Linked DNA regions of Homo sapiens. The protein of the gene in region 3 purifies or fractionates together with the protein of the main gene of each other region. This does not show direct contact. Each region holds a gene or a part of one and is shown on either strand. Other genes may lie near its edges.

Region 1 (3,746 bases), on a different chromosome or scaffold from region 3:
CACACACACACACAGACTCTGGAGACCACCTTGCTGGATTCAAATCCAAGGTCTACTAGTTACTGGCTCTGTAATCTCAGGTAACTTTTAACATTTCTTTCTTTCTTTTTTTTTTGAGACAGAGTCTCGCTCTGTCACCCAGGCTGGAGGGCAGTGGGGCGATCTCAGCTCACTGCAACCTCCGCCTCCCAGGTTCAAGCAATTCTCCTATCTCAGCCTCCCGAGTAGCTGGGACTACAGGTGCACACCACCACACCTGGCAAATTTTTGTATTTTTTAGTAGAGATGGGGTTTCGCCATGTTGGTCAGGCTGGTCTCGAACTCCTGACCTCAGGTGATCCACCCACCTCGGCCTCCCACAGTGCTGGAATTACAGGTGCGAGCCACCGTACCCAGCCAACTTTTAACATTTCTGTGCCTGGTGTCCCCATCTATAAACTGGGGTTGTTGTGGGGATGAAATTAGTTCTTATATGTAAAATGCTTAAGACGTGCCTGGGATATTATGTAAGCGTGAGCTGTTATATTATGGGAAGGTGGCAGCATGGAGTACTGGTAATGAGTACTGATGGCCTGCCTGGATGTAAATCCTGGCTCTACCACTTATTAGCTTTGTGACCTTGGTCAGTGTACTTACTGGGTTAAACAGGGTCCCCCCCAAAAGTCATGCCCACCTAGCACCCCAGAATGTGACCTTTCTCTGGAAATATGGTCTTTACAAATGTAATTAATGAAGTTAAAATGAGGTCACACTGGATTAGGGTACGTCCTAACTACCCTATGACTGGTGTCTTAAGAAGAAGAGTGGACACACGCCCTTAAAAAGGCTTGAGATGGCTTAAAATAAACCTATATAGGCAGCATAACTAGTAAGAACAGATGATGATAGAGTCAGAGATTGGAGTGATGTGGCTGCAAACCAAGGACTGTCAGGGATGGCCAGCAGACACCAGAAGGTAGGAATGAGGCATGGAACAGATTCCCCGTCAAAGCCTCCAGATGGAATCAACCCTGCTGACACCTCGATTTTGGACTTCTGGTCCTCTGAACTGAGACAGAGTAAATCTCTGTTGTTTTAAGCCATCCAGTTTGTGGTCATTTATTATGGCAGCCCTATAAATCTAACATAGTCTGCACTTCTTCATCTGTAAAATGGGGATAATAAAAGTATCTGCTTCACAATTATTAAGACTGCAAGAAATAATCCATGTAAAGAGCTTAGCATTGTGCCTGGTATGCAGTAAGAACAAAACAAAGCTTCTATTATAAGGTACAGTGACAAGTGGCCAACAGTAGCCTCAAGGATGGTGTTAATAGTAGTCTGTTGTATGTCTCTAATTTATTTACTCAATGTCTTATTGAATTTTTATGCCGTTTTGGGGGTTTTGGGTTTTTCTTCGCTAATAGAGGTTTTTTTTTTTGTTTTTTGTTTTTTTTTTAGACAAGGTCTCACTCTTTCACCCAGGCTGGAGTGCAGTGGCTCACTGCAACCTCCACCTTCTGGGCTCAAGTGGTCCTCCCCCAAACCCCAGAAGCTGGGACCACAGGTGCATGCCACCATGCCCAGCTAATTTTTTGTATTTTTAGGCGAGACGGGGTTTCACCATGTTGCCCAGGCTGGTCTTGAACTGAAAAAGGGTATACCAATGTAACTTCTCTTCTGTGTGAGGACACTGGTCTCCCCACATCTTGTCAACACTGGGAATTCTCAGACTTTTAAATCTCTGTCAATCTGATAGAACTGATATCTCCTTCCACAATTTGCTTTTTTATAATTATAAGTGAGTTTTGTTATTATTTATATGTGTATTAGCCATTAGTATTTCCTTTTGTGTGAACTGTCTATTCCTCTCCTCTTTCCACATTTTCTGGCCTGTTCTGTTTTTTTATTGGAGGAACTCTTTGTCTATTAAACAAATCAGCCTTTTGTTTAATATGAAGCAAATATATTTTCCCCCAGCTTGCCGTTTGCTTTTTGGTATTGTTCGTATTAATTTTCATATTGGTTTTTTGGAAAATACAAAAACATGTTTCATAAAGCTCTATCTTACATTAACACCTGCTATGAGGCTATGTGATGAAGTTCATGTTTGTAAAATGGAGAATGAGGATAGGAATGAATTCCACAAGCTTTCCTACAAGTTAGCTTTTTTTTTTTGACACTGAGTCTCACTCTGTTGCCCAGGCAAGAGTACAGTGACACAGTCTCGGCTCACTGCAACCTCCACTGCCCAGGTTCAAGCGATTCTTTTGCCTCATCCTCCCGAGTAGCTGGAATTACAGGTGCCCACCACCACGCCTGGCTAATTTTTGTATTTTTAGTAGAGATGGGGTTTCACCATGTTGGCCAGGCTGGTCTCGAACTCCTGACCTCAGGGGATCCACCCACGTCAGCCTCCCAAAGTGCTGGGATTACAGGCCTGAGCCACCACACCCGGTCTACAGGTTAGCTTTTATTCTACAAGTGCTTTTGACTTACGGCTATCAAAGCTAATAATAATGCTAGGCATTTATTCATTCATTCATTCATTCAACGAATATGTCTTCAGCACTGGACAGGTGCAGGGCTTTGTGAAGGACCATGGGAGACAGAGATGTTTGTCCTCAGGTAGCTTTTAGTCTTGTGGGAGTAGGGGTGCCTGAAGATAATGCAATAACTCCCAAAGAACTCTGATGGCCTCTCTTGTTTGTACTACAATCGTTAGCTTCCTAGAACTCTCTTCTGCTGGTGTGGAGGGAAATGAAATGGAAGGGGCAGAGCGTGGGGAGAGCTAAGTGTGGCCTGAACCAGAAAAGTTGCAGAGACATAGGAGGAGTGGAGTGCAGCATGGTTTGAGGGCAGGTGGGCAGGCCAGCTGAGACAGGGAGATGTCTTCAGACTCTTTTCCTGGAACCCTGTTGCTTACAGATGATTGCTGTGGTGACTCAGACACCATGATGACCCCAAGAGATGCAAAATGAAAACATGCACCCGCGCGCGCACACACACACACAGACACACACACACACACACACACACACAGGCTTTTCCAATTTAAACCACTTGACAACTTTGACGTTTAGAGCATCGAGCATGGCTCATTGTGTTCTGGGATGAAGCTCATAGCAACTGCAGAAAGTGATGGAGTCAAACACTATGTTTAGTGTGTTTGTTTTTTTAGAAGGTACTTTCCCATATGACTAAGAGAATGAAATCAGCCAGTGAAAATAACTGCAAATGAGCCAGAAAACAAGTCTGTTAACAATAGCTGGTCTCTAAGTCCCCATCCTCCTCCATTCAGGGGCTCCACGCACATCTGTCATAATAGAACTAGGCCTTAAAGGGCCTTAAATCCTGTATTGTCAACTCCCCAATAACCACCATCAATCAAGACATCAACCCTCTCTGGAAGACCTCATCTAGGGCTCTGCCATCGCTGCTCACAGCCTATAGAGACAGGTGCTCACTACTTCCCGGCTTAGCCCAGTGTACCCCTGGGCAGTTTTTGTTTGTTTGCTTGTTTGTTTGTTTGTTTTTTGTGTCTCATTCTGTCACCCAGGCTGGAGTACAGTGGTGCAAACAGGACTCACTGCAGCTTCTTCCTCCTGGGCTAAAGCAATCCTCCCACTTCAGCCTCCTGAGTAGCTGGGACTACAGGAGTGCGCCATCACACCTAGCTAATTTTTAAATTGTTTGTAGAGACAAGGTCTCACCGTGTTGCCCAGGCTGGTTTCAAACTCCTGGCCTCAAGCGATCCGCCTGCCTCT
Region 2 (4,490 bases), on a different chromosome or scaffold from region 3:
TTCCAAAACACATTCACTAATGGTGTCTAGGCAGACACTCAAAAGAGAACAATATATCTAACAATTTGAATAAATAAAACATCTTTTCTATTAATAGAACTGCAGTTCCAATATAACAAAATATTTGGGTAAAATGATTATATTTAACCACTTTCCTTTAAGGTATTTGTTTCACTTAAGTCTACAGATATCAGCTAGACTTCCCAAAACAGAATTTGAAAACAAATGGAGAAAGCATGAATTATATAAAAAAAATTAATCTCCAATACAGCAAATAATGTTCCACTATTTACATAACTAGCTGATTCTGAATATGACAGAAACATGAAAAAGGAAACAAATGAAAATGTTCTGGTCATCCTTACCGAAAGAGAAAACTAACCTGAACTCGCCGTTCTTCTTTGTTTGCATCTACCTTATCAGACATCAGAAGAGGCTCGCTTTTCTCACAGCTCTCTTCACTAAGGAGCGTGTCTGCGTAGTTGGGCTGGGGAAAGATCAGGTGACTCTTCCTCGAGTCCGCGGTGAGGGAGACCTCGTGGGAATAGGTCTGCAGGAAAGCCCGAACCCCATCCACGCCCACAAAGTGCGAGGCGGGCACACCCGCCAACCTGCTGCCTTCAGCCTGAAGCAGGCGTGACTTGTGCCAGCGCCTCAGTCTGAGCACCAGCAGCACGATGACGAAGGCCAGGAAGACGCAGGAGACTGCAGCCACTGCCACCACAAGATAGAGTGTGAGGTCCAGATCCTCAGGGTCAATGGGGGTCTTGATACTGCCTAGGTCAGCCAGGATGTCAGGGATCCTGTCGGCCACGGCAACGGTGACCGTGAAGGTGGCTGACAGAGGGGGCTGGCCATGGTCTTCGACGGCCACCACGAGGCTCTGCTTGAGCGCGTCTCTGTCCAGCAGGGCTCGCGCTGTGCGCACCTCGCCCGTGTGCAGCCCAACCGCAAAGAGTCCTGGCTCGCTGGCCTTAAGCAGGCGGTAGGACAGCCAGGCGTTCTGGCCTGAATCTTTGTCCACCGCTACCACCTTGGTCACCAGGTAGCCAGGTTCTGCGGAGCGAGGCGCCAGCTCCACGCCCGTGGAACCGTCTGTGGGGAGGGCGGGGTACAGGATCTCAGGCGTATTGTCGTTCTGGTCCAGCACAAACAGGCTCAGCGACACGTTGCTGCTAAGTGGAGGGTTCCCACTGTCGCTGGCTGTCACCCACAACTGTAGGTCTCTCAACTGCTCATAGTCGAAGGATCTCAGAGCATACAGGACACCGGTGTCAGAGTTAATGGATACATAGGAGGACAAGGGCGCCCCCTGAAATGTGTCTTCAGCCAGGGAGTAGGTGACTCGAGCGTTGTCGCCGCTGTCGGGGTCATGGGCTGTCACAGAGAAGATAGAGACACCTCTGGGATTGTTTTCTGTGACAGAGGTGGAGTAGGAGGCTTGAGGGAAATTGGGTGGGTTGTCATTAACGTCTGCTACTTTCAAGGGGATGTGGCTTTCTGTAGAGAGGGGCGGGGTTCCATGGTCCATGACGGTTAAAGTGATATTATAATCTGAAGTCTCTTCTCTGTCCAGGTCCCTAGTTGTTAATAGGTGATAGTAATTATCAACTGACTTCTCCAATTTAAAAGGCAAATTCCTAGGAATAGAGCATGCAATCTCACCATTTTCTCCAGAATCACCATCATGTACGCTAAACAGCGCGATTACAGTTCCGGGAAGACAGTCTTCAGAGATCGAACTGGTCAGAGAGGTGAGGATCACTTCGGGGGCATTGTCATTCACGTCCTGTACTGTGACCACCACCTTAGCGCTGGCAACAAGAGCGCCTCCATCCTGAGCTACCACTTCCATGAGGTAGAATCTGGATTCTTCATAGTCCAGTGATTGTAGAGTTGAGATTTCCCCCAGGTTGGAATCAAGTTGGAAAGTCTCCGAAATTTTTTCTTCTTCATTGCGAAAAGAGTAGGTCAATTTCCCGTTTATTCCCTCATCTGGATCCGTGGCGGTTAGCATGAGCAGCCGAGTGCCCACAGGTATGTTCTCTGGAACACTCACGCTGTACTCGGATGGGGTGAACAGGGGCGCATTGTCGTTTGCGTCGAGGACCGTAACACGGATGTGCGTGGTGCCGGAGAGTACCGGGTCTCCGCCATCTAAAGCTGTGAGGAGGAGGTCGTGAACAGTCTCTTTCTCGCGGTCTAGGGGCTGTTCCAACACCAGCTCCGGATACTTTTGTCCATCAGTTCCGCTTACCACATCCAGAGAGAAGTGCAGATTGGAGCTGAGCTGGTAACTCCGGAGAGAGTTCACACCCACATCCGCATCCCGCGCGAAGGGAAGCACTAACCGTGTCCCTGCAGCCGCATTTTCATTAACTTTTACTTTTAACTCTTCATCCCGGAAACGCGGGAAGTTATCATTAATATCGATTATTTCTACTTCTACTCCATAAATTTTCATTTTGTTCTCAACCAAGATGTTAAAGTTCACCACACACAGTGGGCTCTGAGCGCAGAGCTCCTCCCGGTCTATCCTGCCCGCGGTGACCAAGCTGCCGCTTCGCGGGTTCAGGGCAAAAAGCTGCGTCCTACCTCTGGAGACGATGCGGACTCCGCGCTCCGCCAGCTCCTGGGGCTCCAGCCCAAGGTCCTTGGCTATGTTGCCGACGAAGGAGCCTTTGTCCAGCTCCTCCGGCATCGAGTAGCGGATCTGCCCGGATCCTGGCTCGCACAGCGTCCCCAGGAGCATGAAGGGCAGCAGCAGCTCTCCGCAGCCCCAGCCCCTAGGTGGACTCGCCATTGCCTTCTCTCTGCCCAATTTTCTCTTAGTTCTGGTTCAGCCTGCTGTTTCCTTATTTATCTAAAGCCGATGGGTACATATTCCCTGACGAAAATGGGCGTGGAGCGTTGGCTTTTCGTAGGAGCTTGTCTGGTCTGTGTGTTTAGTATGGAGGGAGCAGAGTCGGGTCGCCTCTGCGGCAGCTTCTTTCCCACTTTGGTCAACAGCGACACTCAGAGTCCTAACCAGTGACTGCATCAAATTCCATTTTTATTTCTCCTAAGTTTAGTTATAATTTTATTTCTAATAATGTTGCCATATCCTTAATGTTTAACTGTGTAGCGTTGTTTATGACCGTTAATTCAGCTTTAATTCTGAATAGCAAGACTTCCACAATCCCTGAGATCAATATGATTATTAGATCTCAATACCTTACAAAAATTTTATTTAATGCGTCATCGGGGGAGCCTATGTCCTTTATTTACCTCTTATCTATATTTAGTCCATTAAATTAGGACATTCAAATTCTTACCTTTGTAGGATTCAAGATTTCATCTCCTTATTAGGATAAATTTAGGAAAACGTGCTTATTTGCATATAAGAATACCAAGGAAACAAACCCAGTTCTCCATGCACCTTTCCAAACAGGCCTACTGATTTATGTAAGTTATATTAGCTGTCATATGCAGAAGAAATAAAGATCTTTGTTACTTGTGAGGACTTTGAGAAAGTCTCTCCACTATCTCAGACAGCGTTTGAGTTGGGTTAACTATGCATTTTTATGTTTTTCTATTACCATGTTCAAATATTTGTAGTTCCAGTGACAACCAGTATAGTAACTGTGGAGGATGGGGTTTTATTTCATCATCCATGCAGGAAAGCATGAGCAGATACTTGTCGAGAAGTACTGAGTGACCTTTCTATGTTGAGACAGATATTTACTGCTATCATCTTTATATGACAACAGAAATAGAAAAACCTCTTGATTGAAAAAAATGGACATTTCAGAAAGTCATTTTATTTAATAACACTTTCATAGAAAACTAAGAAAATAAAAATTCTATATAATTAGGAAATTCAAAAGCAAAGTTTTAAGTAATATTTTGTAGAAAATGATGTGAACATAGGTTGTAAGATTTTTCTCAATGTGTAGTTTTTCTTAAGAGCAATTTGTTAAAATGCATGTTAGAGAATGATTTCTCACATTTGTTAAATGCACTCTTTCTAGCAGACACCTCAGACCTCAAACATTGCCTGTCCTTTAGAAATACATTTGTGATTCCAAGACATTTAGCTTACTGAGTGTTGGTCTTCAAGTCAATGGGACAATGTCCTACCCATGCCCTGTGATTAACAAGCCATGCCATTATGCAAAAGTCTTTCTTCTTTGTTTCCCAATTTCCAAAGCCTACTAAAATGAAGACTCTCTTTACTCTGAAGTATTATGATTCTAAGAGGAAGTAAAACTAAAATTTGAATAACAAAGAGCCTGAAGGTGAAACTAATTGCCTAAAGTCTCAATAGCAACAAATCTGCAGAGAGAAGTAATGTAAAGATGAGGAAGAAAAAGAAATACAGTGCAATATCTCATGTGATAAAGGTTTGCAATCATGGGTAAATAAATCTCACACTTCAGAGAGAAAACACTTAAAATTCAGTTAGATAAGATTAAGACAATTAAGGCACAACATTGGCCAAATCTAACTCA
Region 3 (3,746 bases):
ATACTTAGGCAGATATGGCCGTCATTCCAGAAATATATCCAGCCCAGCTGGTCCTCTGATTCTGCTGCTCATGGTCTTCCTATCCTTAAAAGTCTAACTCAAATCTTCACTTCTCTTTGGCCATTCCGTTCCTGTGGTGGGTTGAATAGTGGCCCCCCCAAAAGATAGATATATCTAAGTCCTACCCTCTGGAACCTGTGAATGTGACCTGATTTCGAAAAAGAGTCTTCGCAGATTTGCAGAGATCCTAAGAGCTCAAGATGAGTTCTCCCTGGATTTAGGGTGGGCTCGAAATCTAATACTCACATCTTTGTAAGAGAAAGGAGGGGGAAATTTGGACACAGAGACATACAGAGAGGAAGGCCATGGGAAGACAGAGAAAGAGTTTGGAATTTTGTTACCACAAGCCACGGAACGCCTGGGGCAACCAGGAGCTGGAAGAGGCAAGGATGGATTCTCCTCTAGAGCCTCCAGAGGAAACTCAGCTCTGCCAACACCTTGATTTGAAACTTCTGGCCTCCAGAACTGTGAGAGAGTAAGCTTCTGATGCATTTTAGGCCACCAAGTTTGTGGGACCTAATACAGCTCCATTTGCATCTCTCTTCTTTTGAACTCCTCCTGCTTTTTATCTGCTCACATCACTCCCCTGCCCGACTCCTTCACTGGCCCTCTGTCATCCAAAGGACAAAGCTCATCTATAGGATGCTTTATCATGACATGCAGAGATGGGCATGACCTGGTGGCACCTACCCCCTAGCCTCTCCCTGCTGCGTCTACTCTTGTACTTGATACTGTAGCAATACCAATGGGGGCAGTTCTCTCAACACACACAACTGTTTCACAGTTCCCGCCTTTGCACGTTCTGCTCCTCCATGTGGAATGCCCTTCCCTTCCACCCTGACTCCCTGACATACTCCTAGGTATCCTCCCAAATGGTGCTCAGACATCAGCTCCTCTGTGTCCCTTCCAAACAGACCCAGCAGACAATGCCTTGCTCCCTTCTCTGTCCCAGCTTCATTCTACATAACTTCTCTCTATTGTTTGTATACTAATTACTCAACCAGGCTGCAGCACCTAGGCCTTGAGGGCAGGAATGGTGGTTTACTCTTTTCTGATTCCCTAGCACCTAGCTCTAGTGCCTGCCGTACTCAGCAAGTGCCCTGTAAATGTCTGCGAATGGAAGATGACTTCTAGAAGTTAATCATTTCAGGCTGTACAAACCTTCAGGGGATGCTGTATCTTGGGCTCTCCCAGTGGCTGGCACAGTAGCTGGCCAAAGGCTTTTTCTGTCTTCTGATGGATGGTGGAGGCTCTGCCTCCCTCTCTGGGGCACATCAGATTGTCCAGTCTGAAACTGAATCCACCCCAGCCTCTCTCCTCCTCCCCTCTGCGCTCCCATGTTCATTCGTTCCTTCCTTCCTTCCTACATTCTTTTTTTTTTCCTTCTTCTTCAGGGTCTCACTCTGTCACCCAGGCTAGAGTGCAGTGGCACGATCTCAGGTCACTGCAACCTCCACTTCCCGGGCTCAAGTGATTCTCCTGCCTCAGCCTCCCAAGTAATGGGGACTACAGGCACACACCACCACGCCCGGCTAATTTTTGTATTTTTAGTAGAGACGGGGTTTCACCATGTTGGCCAGGCTGGTCTCAAACTCCTGACCTCAGGTGATCCACCTGCCTCAGCCTCCCAAAGTGCTGAGATTACAGGTGTGATCCACCACTGTGCTCCCATTTCTGAGCTCCGGGGACCCCTGCCCATGCCTCCCCGTTGCTGGCTTTCCCATACCTGGGCCTGCTGGGTCTTCTCCAGCCACTGGGCACGGTCTGTAGGACTGGGACAGTGCACAAGGAGGGCGCTGGAGACACACTGGAATTCAGTGAGGTGGATCAGCAGGAAGCTGTCTGGATGGAGGAGACAACCTTCAAGAGGCCAGCCTTTATTTGATCTCCGTCCCAGCTCCTCCTTCCCCTCGCTGAGAAGAGGGAGAAGAAAAGACTCCCTGAAGGAAGGACGTACTGGGGTCTCGCAGGGGTTGGCACACGAGCTTCTCCAGCATGAGAGGGGGTCGGATGACCTTGGCTTTGTCCGCCTTGCGCTGGGGCTTGGTCACAAGGAGCACATCAGAGAAGAGGAACAGGTACACGTCCAGCTGGGGGTGGGGGCGTAGGGGAAAGAGACAGGGTCAGCTGGAGCCAGGGGCAGGGCTGGTCCGGGAGGAGGCTCAGGCATGGTGCGCAGGCACACAGGGACACACGCAGAGCCCAAATGCGGGAGTGGCCAGGGGCGTCGCTTTGGTCACATCTCTCACTTTACAGGCAGGCAAAGTGGCTGGCTCAGGGTCACACAAATGACTGGGGCTTAGCCAGAACCACATCCTCTTCCCCAAACCCCTCTTCTCCCACTTCCGGCGTTTCTGCCTCTTACCTTCTCCCACCGTGCCCCATCCCCTCCACTCTGTCCGCAGCACCCTCACCTTCCCTTCTCGTCCCTCCTTCACTCGCACAGGCCCCTCCAGCAGCAGCTGTCTGGTGTGCTCAGATGCAACCCCCAGCATGGGGGACGTCAGGTCCAGGGTGGAGAATGGGCGCAGGTTCTGAGGGACACAGAGGGGAGGGGTCAGGGCGCTCGGCAGTCTGCCTGGACTTCCTGGCCAAGGGCGGCTCCTGGTTCTGCCACCAACACCTTTCTGTTTGTATCCTTCCCCCATGGGCTAGAGAAAGCCTCCCAGGGCCTCCTTTTTGCTCTTCTGACCTGTACCCCTTGGACTGTCACCACCAGGTAGGAATGATGGACACCCTTGTAGCACCCAAGTACGGGGTGTTCTGGCCTTGCAGCCCTCCCCTTCACCAGTATCCCTGGGACCTTGCTTTTCCTGGGTCCCTTCCCTTTGCCCTCTCACCTTCTCCACCTCATCACTGGGTGGCTCCAGCACCTCGTAGGGCCCGATGCGTTGTGCTGCAGCCGCCAAGCTCTCTTGCTCTTCGCCCTGGCGGACCTGCCCATTGATGTGTCGCAGGAATGACTCCACGGCTTCAATCTAGGTGGGGTTGGGGGTGTGGGAGGAGGGACGGCTCAGCCGTCCCCTCCCAACCAATGCCAGCCACAGCACAGCGCCACACTGTCACAGACACACTAAGAAAGAGACCCCCCTCCCAGTCCCCGATTCACCAGAGTCCCAGCCCCACTGGGGCACCTACCATGGCATTCAGGGCCTCTTGGGCTCGTGCCTCGGGGCTCCTCTTGAGCACAGCATGGAGCAGCAGTGGGTACTTGGTGATGCGCTGGTGGGGCTTGATAAGCAAGTCACAGAGCATCTGCCTCCCAGAGCGCTTGTGCTTCTCACACCACTGCAGGGAAGGTGGGTGGGGCTCAGGGTTTGCTCCCTCCTGCCCTGCCTAGTGGTGAACTCAGCCTCAGGCTCAGCTGGAGACCGGCCGGCTAAGATGCACCCGTCCCCCTCCCCAGCACCCCTTCTCCCACCTGCACGAAGGCATGGAAGAGAGGGTTAGTTTCTTGCTGTTCTCGGGCGTAAGCCATGGTCTGCTTCACTCGGAGGCAGTACTGGACATAGGGGTGGAACCGCTGGCCAAACTGGAGAGACAGATACGGGAGGTGGGGAGCAGGCATGGGGAGAAGGCCATGAATACAGGCTCTAGCTGCAGGACCCAGGAGCAGGTGAAGAGAGCCTCGCAGGGGCCCTTAGCCCAGCTCCTGACAGTCCCTCCCTCCCAGGATCCTCCCAGGA
Region 4 (3,746 bases), on a different chromosome or scaffold from region 3:
TTTTGGCACATTTCCGTTTTGCTTAACACAAAGTTGCAGTGGCTCATGCCAGTAATCCCAGTATTTTGGGAGGCCAAGGTGGGAAGCCTGTTTGAGGCCAGGTGTTCAAAACCGGCCTGGGCAATATAGCAAGACCATCCTCTCTACAAAAAAATAAAAAAACAAAATGAGCCAGGCGTGGTGGTGCATGCCTGTAGTCTCACCTACTTGGGAGGCTGAGGTAGGAGAATTGCTTTAGCCCAGAAAGTCAAGGGGGCAGCGAGCTATGATTGTGTCACTGCACTACAGGCTGCGTAACAGAGCAAAAACCCTGTCTCCAAAAAAGAGAAGAAAAAAAAAAGTCATCTAGCATCTTACTTTTTTTAAGCTGAATACTGACAAATTATAATTGTCTATATTTGTGGGGTACAAAGTGGATGTTCATCATTCCATCTTAGGTAACCATCAGTGACTTAGCTATTTCCCAACTACTGGGCATTTAGACACTCACTTGTTTTTGTGATGAACATTTTGTGTTCAAAATCTGTCTATAATTTAGGAAAAAAATTAGCATAAACTCTCAAAACCAGAATTACCAGGTGAGAAGGAATACTTTTTTTTTTTTTTTTTTTTTTTTTTTGGAGATGGAGTCTCACTCTGTCACCTAGGCTGGAGTACAGTGGCATGATCTCAGCTCACTGCCAGCTCTGCCTCCCAGCTTCAAGCGCTTCTTCTGGTTCAGTCTCCCAAGTAGCTGGGACTACAGGTGCACACCACCATGCCCGGCTAATTTTTATATTTTTAGTAGAGATGGGGTTTCACCATGTTGGTCAGGCTGATCTTGAACTCCTGACCTGAAGTGATCTGCCAACCTTGGTCTCCAAAAATATTGGGATTATAGGCGTGAGCCCCTACACCTGGCCAGGAGTTAGTATTTTTAAGGCTCTTGATATAAAATGATGTGCAAAAAGACTCCATAAATTTACATTCCTAACAGCAGAGTATGACATTAAAGGAACTAAAATGGCCACATCAAGTTAGGCAAACAGCAGAGCTTCAACAGTTGAACAGCCTCACAGAGCTTTCTTCCTAGTGTTTACTCCCGGGCTCTGGATGCCCCACAACTTCCCTCTCACCATACTCAAAACTCATATCCAAAGTGAACTTAGCACATGCCCCACAAAAACCTGCCCTCCTTCCTTCATGGCTAAGATTAACAAATGCACCCAAGTTAGAAATTAAAGGAGTCATCAGCCGGGCATGGTGGCTCACGCCTGTAATCCCAGCACTTTGAGAGGCTGAGGTGGGCAGATCACTTCAGGTCAGGAGTTCGAGATCAAGAACATCCTGGCTAACACAGTGAAACCCTGTCTCTACTAAAAATACAAAAAATTAGCCAGGCATGGTGGCATGCGCCTGTAATCCCAGCTACTTGGGAGGCTGAGGCAGGAGAATCGCTTGAACCTGGGAGGCAGAGGTTGCAGTGAGTTGAGATTGTGCCACTGCACTCCAGCCTGGGTGACAGAGCAAGACTCAAAAAAAAAAAAAAAAAAGAAAAAGAAATTAAGGAGTCATCCTAAATGCCTCTTCTCCTAGTCCCACAATCAATAAACCCAGGATACTTTTCAATTCTACTTCCTAACTCCTCCCCTGCCCTTCCTGCCCCACCTCTAATCAGAAGAATTATTCTAAAACACAAGTGTCATCTTGGTCATTATTCAATATCTCCGTATTTCAGCATATGTAAAAAGCAATAAATGTTCAGTTATATTCCCACGGGTGCCACTTTTGGTTTTCCATGGAGACTACTTATCACCAAGTAATATCAAGGTTGCAAGGGTGAGTTGAGATAAGTTATAGATTGGTTACAAGAGCTGTCAATTTTTGATACAGAAGTAACTACACAGAGCAGGATGAGATCCTTAAACCCCTGGTTACTTAATGGTGTGCAAAGCTGCCATAACATACATCCACCAGTGACTCTTAAAATAGGTGGGATCTTACTAAAGTTGAGAATATAGTCCAATCCTTATTATACCCTTATAACTGGGGCTAACTTCACTATCCTGCACATGCTTACGCTATCAGAATTGCTTTAAGGCAGGGGCCCATTGGCTACCTGGTTTTTGTACAGTCTTATTGGTACAAAGCCACACTATTTGATTACACAAAGCCTAAGGCTCCTTCCATTCAAGGGCAGAGTTGATGAGTTGTAACAAGAGACCACTTGGCCTTCAGAGCTTAAAATATTTACTGCCTGGCCCTTTTAAGAAACTCTGCCAAACCTGCTTTGAAGGAGTATTTTACAAAAATCAGACTCTCCTTGGTTCTGAACTAAGTCAGCATCAGGAGGTGACATCCTCTTGCTGATAAGAGGAGAAAGTAAACTTAGTAGCCATTTTTCCCCAATGGTGGTATCTCTACCTCTAACTCTCTCTAGAAACCTGGTGTCAGCAGTGACCTCAACTCTGATTTAGTCACCTGTCATCAGGGTGAGCCCACACCAGGTCTGATCTAAAGGCCATGGTCACAGGCCCATTCCTCTGCACCTAGTTGAACTACTCTAGGAAATCCAAATAGAAAAAACATAACTTGTCAGAAACAAAGCCTGGCCTGTCTTGATTCATTTTAAATCTTTATTAAATACCTAACATTAAATTTGTGTTACTAGTATAACTCCTCATTAATGCACAGTAAAATTTTAGGTAACGATTTTGGATTTTAGGTCAGATTCTACCACAACTGGATTGTGTAACCCTGAGCAAGTTGCTTACCGCTTTGTGTCTATCCACATCCTCACCTGTAAAAATCAGTTCTAAATCTCAATATTAAAAAATCTCACCCCGTTATTTCTAAAAGTAAGAAGTTTCTGAAAAGACTTTCAGCTTTTCAACTCTAGTGTTTTCTATGTGCTGAGGTGCTTCATTCGTAACAAGACTGGGTTATAAAACTAACATTTTTGCTATTCAATACAAATGAGCTATATCCATTTTTACCTTAATGAGAATGTCATCTAAGCAAAATCTGTGGGAATCACAAAATTGAAACCCATTAGAAAGAGAAAATATTAATCAAAAGACATTCCTTGCTTTATGACCTTTTATCTAAATCTCCTACGTATTAACTAAAAGACATTTTGCAGTAAAATTGAACCCTGCAAAATCTGGACGTACAGCTGACCCTTGAACAATACTTGGGTTGGGGCACCAACCCCCTGTGCAGTCGAAAACCCACACCTAACTTTGATTCACCAAAAACTTAACTACTAATAGCCTACTACTGACCGAAAGCCGTACCAATAACATAAACAACTGACAGATATGTTGTATGTTAATATATTACGTACTATATTCTTACAATAAAGCTAAGAAAATATTAAGAAAGTCGTAGGAAAGGGAAAATACATTTACACTACTGCACTGCATTTATCAATACTATAAGTTTACATAATTTGATTACAAGATGAATCCTCTGTCTGAAATGGGGTTGGGGGGCAACCTCCAACTGCAGACCTCTATCTACAGTACATATCAAACAAATCAACTTTTTCTTGTAATGTCTTTTTTCTCTGCTTCTTGGGAGCACCTGCAGCATCACCAGTGGCACGTCATATGGGACCCATGGTGTTATTTAAGGTTTATGGTATTGCATTAAATTTGATGAAATCTGTTTACTGCTATATGCAATTTACTTGACAGACAAAAGCAGAGTGATTATTTTAAGAAGATACTGGTAACATCTGAGCTTACTGCAAAAGCAACAGGAAG

Evidence for each region. The genes of interacting proteins can lie anywhere in the genome.
Region 1: the proteins of PLEKHG6 (region 3) and TMOD1 purify together in Homo sapiens (affinity purification with mass spectrometry; one large-scale study listed by BioGRID and IntAct). This does not show direct contact.
Region 2: the proteins of PLEKHG6 (region 3) and PCDHGA5 purify together in Homo sapiens (affinity purification with mass spectrometry; 2 studies listed by BioGRID and IntAct, with this or other methods). This does not show direct contact.
Region 4: the proteins of PLEKHG6 (region 3) and CARNMT1 purify together in Homo sapiens (affinity purification with mass spectrometry; 2 studies listed by BioGRID and IntAct, with this or other methods). This does not show direct contact.

Annotation. Positions count from the first base shown.
Region 1 is NC_000009.12:97,508,092-97,511,837, forward strand, and holds part of TMOD1 (tropomodulin-1), read left to right. Parts: intron 1-3,746. UniProt on the Homo sapiens protein: Blocks the elongation and depolymerization of the actin filaments at the pointed end. The Tmod/TM complex contributes to the formation of the short actin protofilament, which in turn defines the geometry of the membrane skeleton.
Region 2 is NC_000005.10:141,362,644-141,367,133, reverse strand, and holds the start of PCDHGA5 (protocadherin gamma-A5 isoform 1 precursor), read right to left. Parts: upstream 2,973-4,490; 5' UTR 2,804-2,972; coding exon 383-2,803; coding exon of another isoform or gene 362-382; exon of another isoform or gene 1-361. UniProt on the Homo sapiens protein: Potential calcium-dependent cell-adhesion protein. May be involved in the establishment and maintenance of specific neuronal connections in the brain.
Region 3 is NC_000012.12:6,317,149-6,320,894, reverse strand, and holds part of PLEKHG6 (pleckstrin homology domain-containing family G member 6), read right to left. Parts: intron 3,593-3,746; coding exon 3,482-3,592; intron 3,397-3,481; coding exon of another isoform or gene 3,349-3,396; coding exon 3,199-3,348; intron 3,039-3,198; coding exon 2,901-3,038; intron 2,595-2,900; coding exon 2,475-2,594; intron 2,151-2,474; coding exon 2,018-2,150; coding exon of another isoform or gene 1,938-2,017; exon of another isoform or gene 1,922-1,937; intron 1,903-1,921; coding exon 1,787-1,902; intron 1,325-1,786; exon of another isoform or gene 1,222-1,324; intron 1-1,221. UniProt on the Homo sapiens protein: Guanine nucleotide exchange factor activating the small GTPase RHOA, which, in turn, induces myosin filament formation. Also activates RHOG. Does not activate RAC1, or to a much lower extent than RHOA and RHOG.
Region 4 is NC_000009.12:75,021,622-75,025,367, forward strand, and holds part of CARNMT1 (carnosine N-methyltransferase), read right to left. Parts: intron 1-3,746.